Linked DNA regions of Homo sapiens. The protein of the gene in region 1 purifies or fractionates together with the protein of each later gene. This does not show direct contact. Each region holds a gene or a part of one and is shown on either strand. Other genes may lie near its edges.

Region 1 (3,500 bases):
TGGTTCATGAGGTAAACACCACTGAATTAGGAGCCCAGGAACACAGCATGACTAGGACATGGTTGCTGGGTCAAAAATGCCATACAGTAGCATGTACCCACAAGATAATTCCTACTTCTGCCAATTAATATTGTAAATATCCATGAAAAAGGAGTGAACTATTTATAGAATATCAGGGGAGCATAATCATTTCCACAATTTTTTTGATATCAAAGGCTTTTGCCACACCAACACTTTGTACTTCAAGACAATGGAAAAATAGAATTGCTTAATAAAAATGTAATTCATTCTTTAAATATTTCTTCAGTTTCTACTATAGGCCGAACCCTGTGGGTTCTCTTTTAAATTTTTAGATGTCTTGGTTCCTGCCCTCAAGATCCTTCTTTGAATGTTACATGCATTATTTCTAGTATCAAAACATGGATCTTCTGGTCTATTTTCCTTATAGACCAGTCTACCTCATTGAAACTAGGGAACATTTCTTTATGATCAAGAGAACCATAACCATCTGCTGGCTAAGCTTTTGCCACTACCATGTATAATGGAAGGGAGGAATTTCCCTTAATGAGTGAGCCTGCCATGTCAGTTATCTGAGAACCTTATGTAATAGGTAATGCTCTTTGCTTAGAAGCACAAGTATCTATATTCTTATATAGATGAAAAAGAAGTGTAACTTAGGCAAAATAAGTGTGTGTGTGTGTGTGTGTGTACATATGTATTTGAGAGAGTTTTAAAAACAATAAATTATTCTAAAGGGAGACATTACCAGCCCTTAAACACATGTATGTACGTATGTACATACATACATACAAACACACACACACACACACACACACGTACACACTATGTTGAAATCATTCCCAAGTGACCTGGAATCAATCTAAGAGTTAAGACATAAACACTTTTGAAGGGGAAGTAGGCAACAATTTATTTTTCCTGCCTTGTGATATATGCTGAAGGTAAATAATATAGAATAGAAAAAGTACGTTTGAGACCAAAGTTTATTCAGTTTGGTTGTGGTTTGTGTGAGCAATTCTAAGAGAGGAGGTATATAGTCATCAGTGAGTAAAAGTACATTTTTCTTGACCTAAATGAAAATACATCCTCATGGAAAATCTGAAAAGTATAGAAAGTTTGGTAGCAGAAATAATACAACCCATTATTTTGATGTATTTTGTTTCAGATGTCCACATGTGGATTTTTATTTTCCAAAATTCGGACCACACTTTATGGTTAATTATTCAATGCTTTTCTGCAACATATACCATGAACGTTTTCCTGGTCTTTAGATATTCACTAAAGCATGACTTTAGAGTCTGCAAAATATTGCACCCTATGAACATACAAAGCATATTTCTCACATAAATCTTTAACAACATTTTCAAATTATTACCTTAGACTCTTTGTGTACATGAAATGACTAGTTTGTATAGCATGACCTTTTTAAAACCTCCTATTTCCAATTTGTTTTCCTAGAAGAATGAAATTTTATTTTCAAAAGAGAACATTATGAATGGGCTAAAATTTTTCATTTGAGAAAAAAAGCCTAGGTTAATTTTAAAAATATTAAAACAACTGTGTGCTACCATAGAATTTTTTTAGTTTTGATAAAAGTGAATTCAAACTTGGACAAGAGAAACATTAAAGCCTTATCTCCAAGCAGCTGCCTTTCTGGGTAGACATGAATTAAACTCACTAGAAGTTTCAGCCAGATTTCTTCCTGAATGGTTCAGACAGTTGCAAACACCAGACTATAGGCTCGCTTTTGTTTAGTGCATCTTCCAACAGGCAGTCATTTGTTCATGTCACTCAGAAAGATAAAATTTTTAGCATTTGCTGAACATACACATATTCAAATAAACATTTAAATATTCCCCTACTTCTATATAAAGAAAGAAAAACCCAGGCAAATTTTAAATGAGCCATATTTTGTTGATTAATTTTTAGCCCAATTATAATGCAATGAGAAAAATTAATTTTACTAAATTTTGATTCTGTAGAAAAGTAATAGCTGTTTAGCACTCCCTTATTCAAAGAACAAATTTAGTATTTCTTGAAATACTTTTCTTCATTGTAGTCAAATCACATCTACATATCTAAAGGAAAAGTTGACTGGTTTTCCTAAGTAAGTATATATTAATAGGAACAAGCATTTTAGTCTCCATACTTTAACCATACTCTAAGCTGTAAATGTCCAGTGAGTTTGGAGCTGTAAGCAAAAGGACCTCCTTTTGAAATGCCTGTTTTAAAACATCAAATGGTATGAAATCCTTTAACCTCATGCAGTTACATTTATTATGAAATATTTCAAACATACTGCAAAGGTATAACGAATACTTTGGAATAATCTGGTTTTTGAGGTAGGAGTTAGAAAATGTTCCATGGGTAACTCATTTGTGCATTTTAGAACTACTTGAAACTCTGTACCTTCAAATAAAAAGTAGAGTGGGGTGGAAGTAGGGAGAGCATTAGGAAAAATGGCTAATGCATACTGGACTTAATACCTAGGTGATGGGTTGATACGTGTAGCAAACCACCATGGCACATGTTCACCTATGTAACAAACCTGCACATCCTGCACATGTACCCCGGAACTTAAAAAAAAAAAAGAAAGATTTTGTGAGGTGGAAAAAAAAAGTAGAGTGATACGTATGCCAAATTTTGAATTACTAATTTTAAAGTAATTTTGTTCTTCATAATCTGATTTTGGAAAACAAAAAACGACTCCCTTTCTGCCTTCTAGTGTGCTAAAACATGAGCTGCTCCGTGTGTACTATTGATCTGTACACACTGAGATTTTAAATTAAAATTAATTTATAAATTGTCACAACTTCTTTATAGTGCTTGTTGCATATAATTTTGCTAGAATAGTGATTCTCAAACTTTTAACAGGTAGGAAATCTAGGAATGGTAGTCTTAAATTTCCTTTGCCCCTCAAGACAAAAACTCATACTAAAAATCCTACAAGAATCTGGTATGTGGCTGGGCATGGTTGCTCACACCTGTAATCCCAGCACTTTGGGATGCTGAAACGGGCAGAGCCCAGGAGCTCGAGACCAGCCTGAGCAACATGGCAAAATCCTGTCTCTACCAGAAAAAAAAAAAAAAAAATTATCCAGGCATGGTAGTGCACGCCTATAGTCCCAGCTAAGGAGGCTGAGGTGGGAGGATCAATTGAGCTTAGGAGGTCAAAGCTGCAGTGAGCCATGAACATGCCACATTGCACTCCAGCTGACAGAATGAAACTCTGTCTCAAAATAATAATATGCCATGTAAGAAGCTTAAGGTTACCACTTCACGCTAATAACAAATTAAAAACTGAACAACCTGAGAAAACAACTTTTCTTGTATATAGCAGAGAATCGAGGTCACAGGGCAAATCTCTGCCCCCATAATTGGAGATAGGCAGATAGAGAGAATCACAACTTAACTGGTGCAGAAACCTCTTCAGGAACCAGTGCGAGGGTAGTAGGAAAACCTGACCTGTAGTTGACAAATTA
Region 2 (3,500 bases), on another chromosome or scaffold:
CAGTGGGAAAGATTTTTTTTTTCAGGCTTACAATGAGTATTTTCAGGCCAATGGGCAGTTAACACAAGAATATACCAAGAATGAGACAGCAATACCCATAAGCCACAATATCGTTTTTGGTAGGTTGACAGTTTGATTCAACTGGGTATTCAGCATCGGTGAGTGAGAAAGGAATTAGGACAGACACCAAGGCTCTTATGATATTCAAATAATTTTAAGAACACTGTCAGAGATAAGAAGAAAGATGCCCTAAAATATATTGCCTTATTGAGACTTACTTCAAAGCAATATACCCTTCAAAATATCAGATAAAAAGACAATCTTGTCATCGACTGTGAAAGTTAGGAGGAATCTTACAAACTGCCTAATCCAGTTCTTCCATTTTACAGACAAGAGAACTGAGGCTGAGATCATACTGATAGTTTTCCAGCCTGAAATTCAGATGTCTTGACTTTCAGTCTAGGGCTCCTTCTTACACAATGCCATCTCTTAATTATTTACTGAGCATAACATAATATCTTCTGTTTCAAATATGTAATTTTAGGTTAAATACTGATTTATGCTACTTACTTCTTATTCAAGTTTTTATCTTATTCTTGGCTAAATTGTGGCTGAAACTGGGAATGTTACATACTTTAAAAATATTCTAATTTAGTGTACTTGATTGGTCAGAAATTGACTCCCTTGACATATTTGCTCATGACAAGCTTGCTCACGGCCTTTAAATAGAGAGTAAAATGGAATGGCTGAATAGCCCTCAAAACCAACGTATGTCTAGGGATCATCTACCTAAGGTAGATTCTACAGCTGGGCACTAGTAATTTCATAGAAAAAAATATTTTTTAGAATTCATAGAAATCTTTTTGATTACTGAAAACTAAATTGTAATAATCAAATTGTCATCCCCATGACTTATTAAAATAATTTTACAATAATATACAACAAAGCTACCATAGAATTTGTAGTTTACATATAGAACACATTGGTCAGCATGTTCTTGGGTCTAAATGAAATACAAGAAAATTAAAATATTTTATACGAATGATGTTTTAAATTTATTAACATGACGATATGCCTTTGTTACACAAAACTTGCTAGAGCAGAGTATTTTATTTTTTTCTTGCACGTTTTAAATATAGATGGACCAGTGAAATCAATATCAGCATTTACATGACATTACCATGCAGAAACACTTGATAACCGAAAGACATATAGATTGGTAGAAAGAACATCTCAGACAGGTTTTTTTTATGTCTTCAAAGGTTTCACCAGGGTGTGGTACAGATGAAAAGAAGTGGTGTTAATGACCTACCTGCACCGATAATAAAGCAAATAGAATGATTATATACATTAAGATCAGCTTGATTAAAAATAAATTTTATATGCAGGTAAATTGATCATTAAAATGAACCCAGTTTAACTCTTCTCGTGTGTTGTTTTAAGGTAGGTCACTGAAACGCAGAGATAAAATCAGATGGGGAAAATTAAAAGCAAAGAAAAAAATAGCAAAACAAGTGGGTTAAGCCATGGATTCTCAACAAACACTGAACTAAATGTGCAAAAGTGCTTGAAATTTCCACCTGACAGCAATGTTGTTAAGTCAGTTGGCAAAAAAAAGTGTAGGAAAAAAACTAACCTCTCAAATACCAACATTGTATCTGCATGATCGATCAGACATTCTGTTTACTGAGAGAACAGAGGTTAGAAATTATGAAATATCTGAAAATATCATACCTCAAAATTAAAATACAATTGTGGCAGTTTTATACACTTTGTTCCCTTTCCTCATTGATGAGGCATGGGATGAAAGCAGAAGTTGCAGCAGTGCCCCTACCCTAGGCTCACAAATATAGTACACCACAATAATTAGCTGGAAACAACTTCTTTTTAACGGTTACAAAACAAAACAAATGTAAACCCTCATTTAAATATGAATACCTCTATATTGTTTCCAAAAATCAAGCCATTTTTGACTTTGCAAAGTATAAGTATTTATCTAAACCAATGTTCTTTTTAGTTTGCTTATTTTCCTTTAAAAAGTTTATGATGAGGACTATTAGAGAAAATTTAAAATTTGTCACTTTCATTAATCATGTTCTATTAAAATACTGGCTAAAATCCTTAAGGAACAGTTAAGGTTTAGAAAACTTAGAACTCTTCTCTAATACCTACAGAAATGCTGGTACCAAGTGAGAGAATCTGGGTGATGATCCATATCATTAGTTTTTCCTGCTGAATGAGACACGTTTGTCACACTACACAGGCTGGTCACTTCATTACTCAAGGAGAGGAGGATATAAAAGGAGGGAAAGGGAACTAGAACCTCTGATCTACAGCCTTCCAAATTTCTGGGTCTAGCTGTACTGTATTAGTCTACCAAAATTTATTGCCAGAATAGTGAATTCCAAGAAAGTTAGTCTTAATTTGTATAAATTTCCTTGGTGATAAGACAGTCTATCTTCAAAAATTACCAAGAGTTTTGGCAAAACCAAGTCTGAGCTACTCAAAGAAATAATAATTATTAGAAAGTTTATCTTCAAGCCATTGACCAACAACAATATTGGCAATAACTACTGAAAGCAACACTTATCCTTCCCTTCAAATATCACGTAGCCATAACACTGCCCATCTGAAACACCAACAAAATAAAATGGAGCACTGTTTAGAGAAAACCAATGAAATTGGAAAAGGAAGAAATGGATATAGGAGAGGAGAAAGACAACCCAAAGAGAAGTAAGAAAGTGGTCTAGTACTGTGTTATGGCACAGACAATGCTTGCTTAGCGGTGCCTTGTTACATAGGTGGATGCAGAGTGCGCACACGGGATGATGGCAATAAAGACCTCACTCAGTCGTTGGAATGAAGGAACTAGGTAACTGCTTCAACAAGGACGGTCTCAGCTCTACCTTATCTCTCAACAGAGTGCAAACACTGAGTGTGAGCTCAGATGTCATCTTGTTCCTCTTTAAAATTCACCAAATTCTTTTGCACATTTTTCTGTTATAGAGACACGGATATCTTCTTCTTCATAGTCATCAAAGTTGCTGGTATCTCCAGAGCCTCTAAACTTTGGTATGAATGGAGCTTCAACCTATAATTGAGAGGGAGAGAAAAATAAGAAAAAGGAAAAAAAAATTCCTGAGAGTTTCCAAACACCAAGAAAAATAAATTCCCACTGTTATTACACGGTGAAATCCTTAGATGCCATTAGGTTCCTAAAATATAATAGTGCTAGAAGAAGCAGCAAGCAGTAGGTTAGCTATTAACCTCAACATTTTGATTCAAGGAAGTATGCAGGTCAACAAAATACTTAAGAAATTTCTGGGATAAGAGGAGAAGCCAAGATGGCCGAATAGGAACAGGTACGGTCTACAGCTCCCAGCGTGAGGGACACAGAAGACGGGTGATTTCTGCATTTCCATCTGAGGTACCAGGTTCATCTCACTAGGGAGTGCCAGACAGTGGGCGCAGGTCAGTGGGTGCACGCACCGTGTGCGAGC
Region 3 (3,500 bases), on another chromosome or scaffold:
ACTATTGCTTTAAACTTGGTATCAGCCAGGTATTTCTTTGGTCTAACCCTGAAAAAGTACAAATTACACACATCCCCACACTTTCAAAATATGCCAAAGAATTATTTATTAACACAAGACTTACAGATCACAAAAGAGAGTGATACAGAAGAGCTGGAAAAGAAGTCATCAGAATAAGCATGCAGATCAGTATTTGCAGAGGAATATACTAAAGTAAATTTGAAGGCACATTCACACAGAAAATGTCTAAATTGAAAAAAAGACATCAGAAAAGCAGCCAAAAAAAAAAAAAGGTGCTAATTAAAATACAAAGATTTTCAATGTCAAAGAAGAGCTACTTTACAGATAGGTAGGTAGGTAGCTACAGAAGTCTTGCTAACCCTTTGAAAATGTCACAGATGAGGGTCAGCTCTTGCTGCCAATAAAACCATATGATTTTAATGACTGCACGTCAAGATGCTTCAGTGCCGCAGATTAAATTTAGTCAGGGGGAAAAAACAGCCTAGTTGAAATTATATGCAGCAAGGCCTCAAAGGGTTAAATGTAATAATACGCAGAGAAATCAGGCAATGTTATCAGTATTATCTACCTTCCATACAAATGATTATAGCAAGAGTTAAAAGAGACAGTATCCCCTTCAGAGTTAAGTTAGGGCTTCTAAACAGGATTAAGGTCCGCAGATAGCAATCTACCAGGTTTTATTCTCTCTTCATCAGCTCACTTCTTATTTCTCCAACAAGAAGTACCTTTAACCCTCAAACTAAGAGAGCAAGAGATACTGTGGTGAACATGAGGATAAAATAAAACTACATTACTTTGAATAAGTCCTTGCCATTTACCCTCTACAATACATTGATGCAGCAATTTTGCACAACAGCAATATAGCGCATTGGTCAGACATCAACCCCTTTTAACAACCGCTCTAAAGGGATACTGCTCCTTTCTGACAGGAGGTTTACAGATCAATGGGAGGAAACAATCTGCTTTTAAGAATATCCTCCAACTGAAGAGTTAGCTTGAACATTACAGGCTCCAAGCTGAGGATGTTCCAAACATACATAAAAGAACATGAGCACAGAAGATTATTTTAACAGGTCAGTAAGAACAAGCTTGGTCAAAAAAACCAACCTCCAAATAAAATGGGGGAAAAAAAAAGACACCCCAAACCCGGATTAGCCTCATTTCATAAAGACATCTACCTTGGCACTGTGAAAGAATATAGATTCACTTTCAGAAAAATAGTTTCTAATTAATAACTTCAGAGTCCAAAAGGCTAGTATACATGTTATGAGATTTTTAAATAAAAATCCAATATTGTTCAGAAAACAGAGCACTTTGCAACCAACTGCTGTGGTTCAAGCAGCTCATAAAAAAAAAAAACCAACAAAACAAAACCCACAATCACTCTATCAAACAAACAGCAGCAAAAAAATAAGAAAATTTCTGAGGAAAAGTACAAAAAAAAAAAAAAAGACAGAAAGTAGACAGTCAAGGGCACAGGAGCTCTTCAGACCGCCCACTGCATTTGAAAAATACCTTAGCAAGTAGCAACATGAAACATGCAATGTCTCTGCTAACTTGCTCCTGATTCAGCAGCCTGTTTAGCAATACCTACAACATTTCCATAACCAAAGGATGGATGCAATTTTGTTTTCCGACTTGCCAATTTGACATATGCAAAAGCTATAGGACTTTACAATTTCTGCCTGAATCTGTAAACTTGGAAGTGTCTCACGTGTCCCCCCTAGTTAGACAAAACCAAATCCTTCATATGCATAATACATTTTCTAGAATAATACAGTGATACTGAGATATTTCTCATTATTAAAAGGCCACAAAATAGGTTTATCTTTCTATATACATATCAAAAAACAAAACAAAAGAAAAACCAGGACACTTGGGAATCTAGTTTTTATGACAGAAGTTGAACTAGAGAGTAAATTGCTACATGTAAATCTACACAGAATTTAAAGAGGGCTCCCTAATAAGATGTTTTCAAACATTTTATCAGAAAGTTAGCAGTTACCCTATCCTAGCATCTACAGATTTGTTACAACTTAATATTTCCAGTAATAGAGTTAACACTGAAAACAGCTCCTGGATTCCACTGACAACACACACCCTCCTCTTTGCCAGGCCCTGACATACAGAACATTCATATATAAACTCTTTCCCTCTTCTTCTCTTAAAAGGATGTGGCAAACTGCACTACAAGTGGTTAGAAATTTTTACTTTCTTGACCTAACAAGAGTTAATTTCTGTAAATCAAACAGAATACTATACTGGCAGTTGCTGTGTATACCCAAGAGAAGAAAAAAGGAGAGGGAAACACTGATTTTACTCACAGAAATGAAGGAACACTGCCGGCACTGCAAAGGTCTTTATCAAATTTCTGGCAATGTGAGGTTCACTTAGCAGTGACTTTTTATGTGCCTCTAACACCAAGCTGGTGCTAGATTTCAAAAATAAAAATATCTTAGCTACCCAATCTAAGTTCCACAGTAGCCATAGTATCCATATCAAGTATCCATAGAATCAAATTTAACACTGCTTTAAGGAGACTGGCAATAAAGAGGTTGATTATTAGAGATTCATAAAGCTAAAGGGCCAGAGCCTTACTCATGTAAATCAACACCCGCAGAATCATCTTTGAAATCTACAACACCATCACCAGAGCAATCTCACCAATTCCTCACCTGCAGCAGGAGGATGCTGGCCACTAACTGTTGGTAAATCCAAAGAGCTATCAGACATGACATGCTTAAGATCTCCTCCCACATCAGCCAATTTCATGTCAAACTGAACAGAGAGTGCATCTTCAGAGTCCTCCTTGCCAACACTGCTGCCACCAATGGAAGGGAGATCTAAGGACTTCACTGATGCAGAGTCTTCTTTGGTGTGTCTGAAAGCCACTGCTTTCTCTCCCAGGGATTTGTCCGAGTTTATGGAAGAAAATTTACTGGAGTGGAAGTCAGCAAAATCATCATCACTTTTTCCTGAAGGAGTGTTATCTTTCAGGTCTTCAACACCTAGTCCAGACCCTTCCAGAGAAAGTTGTCTGAAGACATCGTACTTGGTAGACGCAGCAGTCGAGTTTTGTCCACCCTTCACTGTGCTGCCCACGTTGCTGGTTAGAGGAACAGGACTGGCTTCCTCTTTAAGGGCATCATATTTGTCATCCGGCTTTTGCTCAGATGAAATAGAGCTATTACTGAAAGCCATAAAATCTGCAAAGTCATCCTGCTCCCCAACAGGTGCTAGACCAGAATATTCCCCAAAAAGGCTGAATTCTCCAAAATCATCAGCCAAACTAGAAGTTTTTGTTGCTGCCAATGCTGTCATAGTAGCAGCAGAACCTGTTGACTGTGGTGTAGAAACTGATTTTGATGTGCTAAACACAGCTGAAAAAGACAATGGTTTCTCGCTGCTGCAATTAACTGAGGAAAACATATCTAGGTCTGCTAAGTTCAGAGGGTTTTTCACTTGTGTTTGTTGTTTCT
Region 4 (3,500 bases), on another chromosome or scaffold:
TGCTCCTGGACTAGCTGACCAGACAACTGGCATGTCAACTCTAACCTCTACTTCCTACTCACATAGAGAGAAGCCTGGTACTTTTTACCAACAAGAGTTACCAGAGAGTAACTTAACCGAAGAGCCTTTGGAAGTTTCAGCTGCTCCTGGCCCAGTGGAGCAGAAGACGGGAATACCTACAGTATCCTCTACATCCCACTCACATGTAGAGGACCTCCTCTTTTTCTATCGACAGACCTTGCCAGATGGTCATCTAACTGATCAGGCTCTGAAAGTCTCAGCTGTGTCTGGACCAGCTGACCAGAAGACTGGGACAGCAACAGTACTCTCTACTCCCCACTCACATAGAGAGAAGCCTGGTATTTTTTACCAACAAGAGTTCGCAGACAGTCATCAAACTGAAGAGACTCTTACTAAAGTTTCAGCCACTCCTGGACCAGCTGACCAGAAGACTGAGATACCAGCAGTACAGTCTAGTTCTTACTCACAAAGAGAAAAGCCTAGTATTTTGTACCCACAGGACTTAGCAGACAGTCATCTACCTGAAGAGGGTCTGAAAGTTTCAGCTGTTGCTGGACCAGCTGACCAGAAGACTGGCCTACCAACAGTACCCTCTAGTGCATACTCACACAGAGAGAAGCTCCTTGTTTTCTACCAACAGGCCTTGCTGGACAGCCATCTACCCGAAGAGGCTCTGAAAGTTTCAGCTGTTTCTGGACCAGCTGACGGAAAGACTGGGACACCAGCTGTAACCTCTACTTCCTCTGCGTCCTCTTCACTTGGAGAAAAGCCCAGTGCTTTCTATCAGCAGACCTTACCCAATAGTCATCTAACTGAAGAGGCTCTGAAAGTATCAATTGTTCCTGGACCAGGTGATCAGAAGACTGGGATACCCTCAGCACCATCTAGTTTCTACTCACACAGAGAGAAGCCCATTATTTTTTCCCAGCAGACCCTGCCAGACTTTCTTTTCCCTGAAGAAGCTCTGAAGGTTTCAGCTGTTTCTGTATTGGCTGCCCAGAAGACTGGGACACCAACAGTGTCCTCTAATTCTCACTCACATAGCGAGAAATCTAGTGTTTTCTACCAGCAAGAGTTGCCAGACAGTGATCTACCTAGAGAATCTCTGAAAATGTCTGCTATTCCTGGACTGACTGACCAGAAGACTGTCCCAACACCAACAGTACCTTCAGGTTCCTTCTCACATAGAGAGAAGCCCAGTATTTTCTATCAACAGGAGTGGCCAGATAGTTATGCAACTGAAAAGGCTCTGAAAGTTTCAACTGGCCCTGGACCAGCTGACCAGAAGACTGAGATACCAGCAGTACAGTCTAGTTCTTACCCACAGAGGGAGAAGCCTAGTGTTTTGTACCCACAGGTGTTATCAGACAGTCATCTACCTGAAGAGAGTCTGAAAGTTTCAGCCTTCCCTGGACCAGCTGACCAGATGACTGACACACCAGCAGTACCGTCTACTTTCTACTCACAAAGAGAGAAGCCTGGTATTTTCTACCAACAGACCTTGCCAGAGAGTCATCTGCCTAAAGAGGCTCTGAAAATTTCAGTAGCTCCTGGACTAGCAGACCAGAAGACTGGCACACCAACTGTAACCTCAACTTCCTACTCACAACATAGAGAAAAGCCCAGCATTTTCCACCAGCAGGCCTTGCCAGGTACTCATATACCTGAAGAGGCTCAGAAAGTTTCAGCTGTTACTGGACCAGGTAACCAGAAGACTTGGATACCAAGAGTACTTTCTACCTTCTACTCACAAAGAGAGAAACCTGGTATTTTCTATCAACAGACCTTGCCAGGTAGTCACATACCTGAAGAGGCACAGAAAGTTTCACCTGTTCTTGGACCAGCTGACCAGAAGACTGGGACACCAACTCCAACCTCTGCTTCTTACTCACACACAGAGAAGCCTGGTATTTTCTACCAACAGGTCTTGCCAGATAATCATCCAACTGAAGAGGCTCTGAAAATTTCAGTTGCCTCTGAACCAGTTGACCAGACAACTGGCACACCAGCTGTAACCTCTACTTCCTACTCACAATATAGAGAGAAGCCCAGCATTTTCTACCAACAGTCGTTGCCAAGTAGTCATCTAACTGAAGAGGCTAAGAATGTTTCAGCGGTTCCTGGACCAGCTGACCAGAAGACTGTGATACCAATTTTACCCTCTACTTTCTACTCACACACAGAGAAGCCTGGTGTTTTCTACCAACAGGTCTTGCCACATAGTCATCCAACTGAAGAGGCTCTGAAAATTTCAGTTGCCTCTGAACCAGTTGACCAGACAACTGGCACACCAACTGTAACCTCTACTTCTTACTCACAACATACAGAGAAGCCGAGTATTTTCTACCAACAGTCGTTGCCAGGTAGTCATCTAACTGAAGAGGCTAAGAACGTTTCAGCGGTTCCTGGACCAGGTGACCGGAAGACTGGGATACCAACTTTACCCTCTACTTTCTACTCACACACAGAGAAGCCTGGTAGTTTCTACCAACAGGTCTTGCCACATAGTCATCTACCTGAAGAGGCTTTGGAAGTTTCAGTTGCTCCTGGACCAGTTGACCAGACGATTGGCACACCAACTGTAACCTCCCCTTCCAGCTCATTTGGAGAGAAGCCCATTGTTATCTACAAACAGGCCTTTCCAGAGGGTCATCTACCTGAAGAGTCTCTGAAAGTTTCAGTTGCTCCTGGACCAGTTGGCCAGACAACTGGCGCACCAACTATAACCTCTCCTTCCTACTCACAACATAGAGCAAAGTCTGGCAGTTTCTACCAACTGGCATTGCTAGGTAGTCAAATACCTGAAGAGGCTCTCAGAGTTTCTTCTGCTCCTGGACCAGCTGACCAGACAACTGGCATACCAACCATAACCTCTACTTCCTACTCATTTGGAGAGAAGCCGATTGTTAACTACAAACAGGCCTTTCCAGATGGTCATCTACCTGAAGAGGCTCTGAAAGTTTCCATTGTTTCTGGACCTACTGAAAAAAAGACTGACATACCAGCAGGACCTTTAGGTTCCAGTGCACTTGGAGAGAAGCCCATTACTTTCTACCGGCAGGCTCTGCTAGACAGTCCTCTAAATAAAGAGGTTGTGAAAGTTTCAGCTGCTCCTGGACCAGCTGACCAGAAGACTGAGACATTACCAGTACATTCTACTAGCTACTCAAATAGGGGGAAGCCTGTCATTTTCTACCAGCAGACCCTATCAGACAGTCATTTACCTGAAGAAGCTCTGAAAGTTCCACCTGTTCCTGGACCAGATGCCCAGAAGACTGAGACACCATCAGTATCCTCTAGTTTATACTCATATAGAGAGAAGCCCATTGTCTTCTACCAACAGGCCCTGCCAGACAGTGAGCTAACTCAAGAAGCTCTGAAAGTTTCAGCTGTTCCTCAACCAGCTGACCAGAAGACTGGGTTATCTACTGTAACTTCCTCTTTCTATTCACATACAGAGAAGCCTAATATTTCTTACC

The links. Proteins that work in one complex are often made in the same cells at the same time.
Region 2: the proteins of MLF1 (region 1) and PRKACB purify together in Homo sapiens (affinity purification with mass spectrometry; 3 studies listed by BioGRID and IntAct, with this or other methods). This does not show direct contact.
Region 3: the proteins of MLF1 (region 1) and SYNRG purify together in Homo sapiens (affinity purification with mass spectrometry; 4 studies listed by BioGRID and IntAct, with this or other methods). This does not show direct contact.
Region 4: the proteins of MLF1 (region 1) and ALMS1 purify together in Homo sapiens (affinity purification with mass spectrometry; 4 studies listed by BioGRID and IntAct, with this or other methods). This does not show direct contact.

The regions. Positions count from the first base shown.
Region 1 is NC_000003.12:158,577,694-158,581,193, forward strand, and holds part of MLF1 (myeloid leukemia factor 1), read left to right. Parts: intron 1-3,500. UniProt on the Homo sapiens protein: Involved in lineage commitment of primary hemopoietic progenitors by restricting erythroid formation and enhancing myeloid formation.
Region 2 is NC_000001.11:84,234,771-84,238,270, reverse strand, and holds part of PRKACB (cAMP-dependent protein kinase catalytic subunit beta), read right to left. Parts: intron 3,092-3,500; coding exon 2,966-3,091; 3' UTR 1-2,965. UniProt on the Homo sapiens protein: Mediates cAMP-dependent signaling triggered by receptor binding to GPCRs.
Region 3 is NC_000017.11:37,550,419-37,553,918, forward strand, and holds part of SYNRG (synergin gamma), read right to left. Parts: coding exon 2,697-3,500; intron 1-2,696. UniProt on the Homo sapiens protein: Plays a role in endocytosis and/or membrane trafficking at the trans-Golgi network (TGN). May act by linking the adapter protein complex AP-1 to other proteins. Component of clathrin-coated vesicles.
Region 4 is NC_000002.12:73,448,336-73,451,835, forward strand, and holds part of ALMS1 (centrosome-associated protein ALMS1), read left to right. Parts: coding exon 1-3,500. UniProt on the Homo sapiens protein: Involved in PCM1-dependent intracellular transport. Required, directly or indirectly, for the localization of NCAPD2 to the proximal ends of centrioles.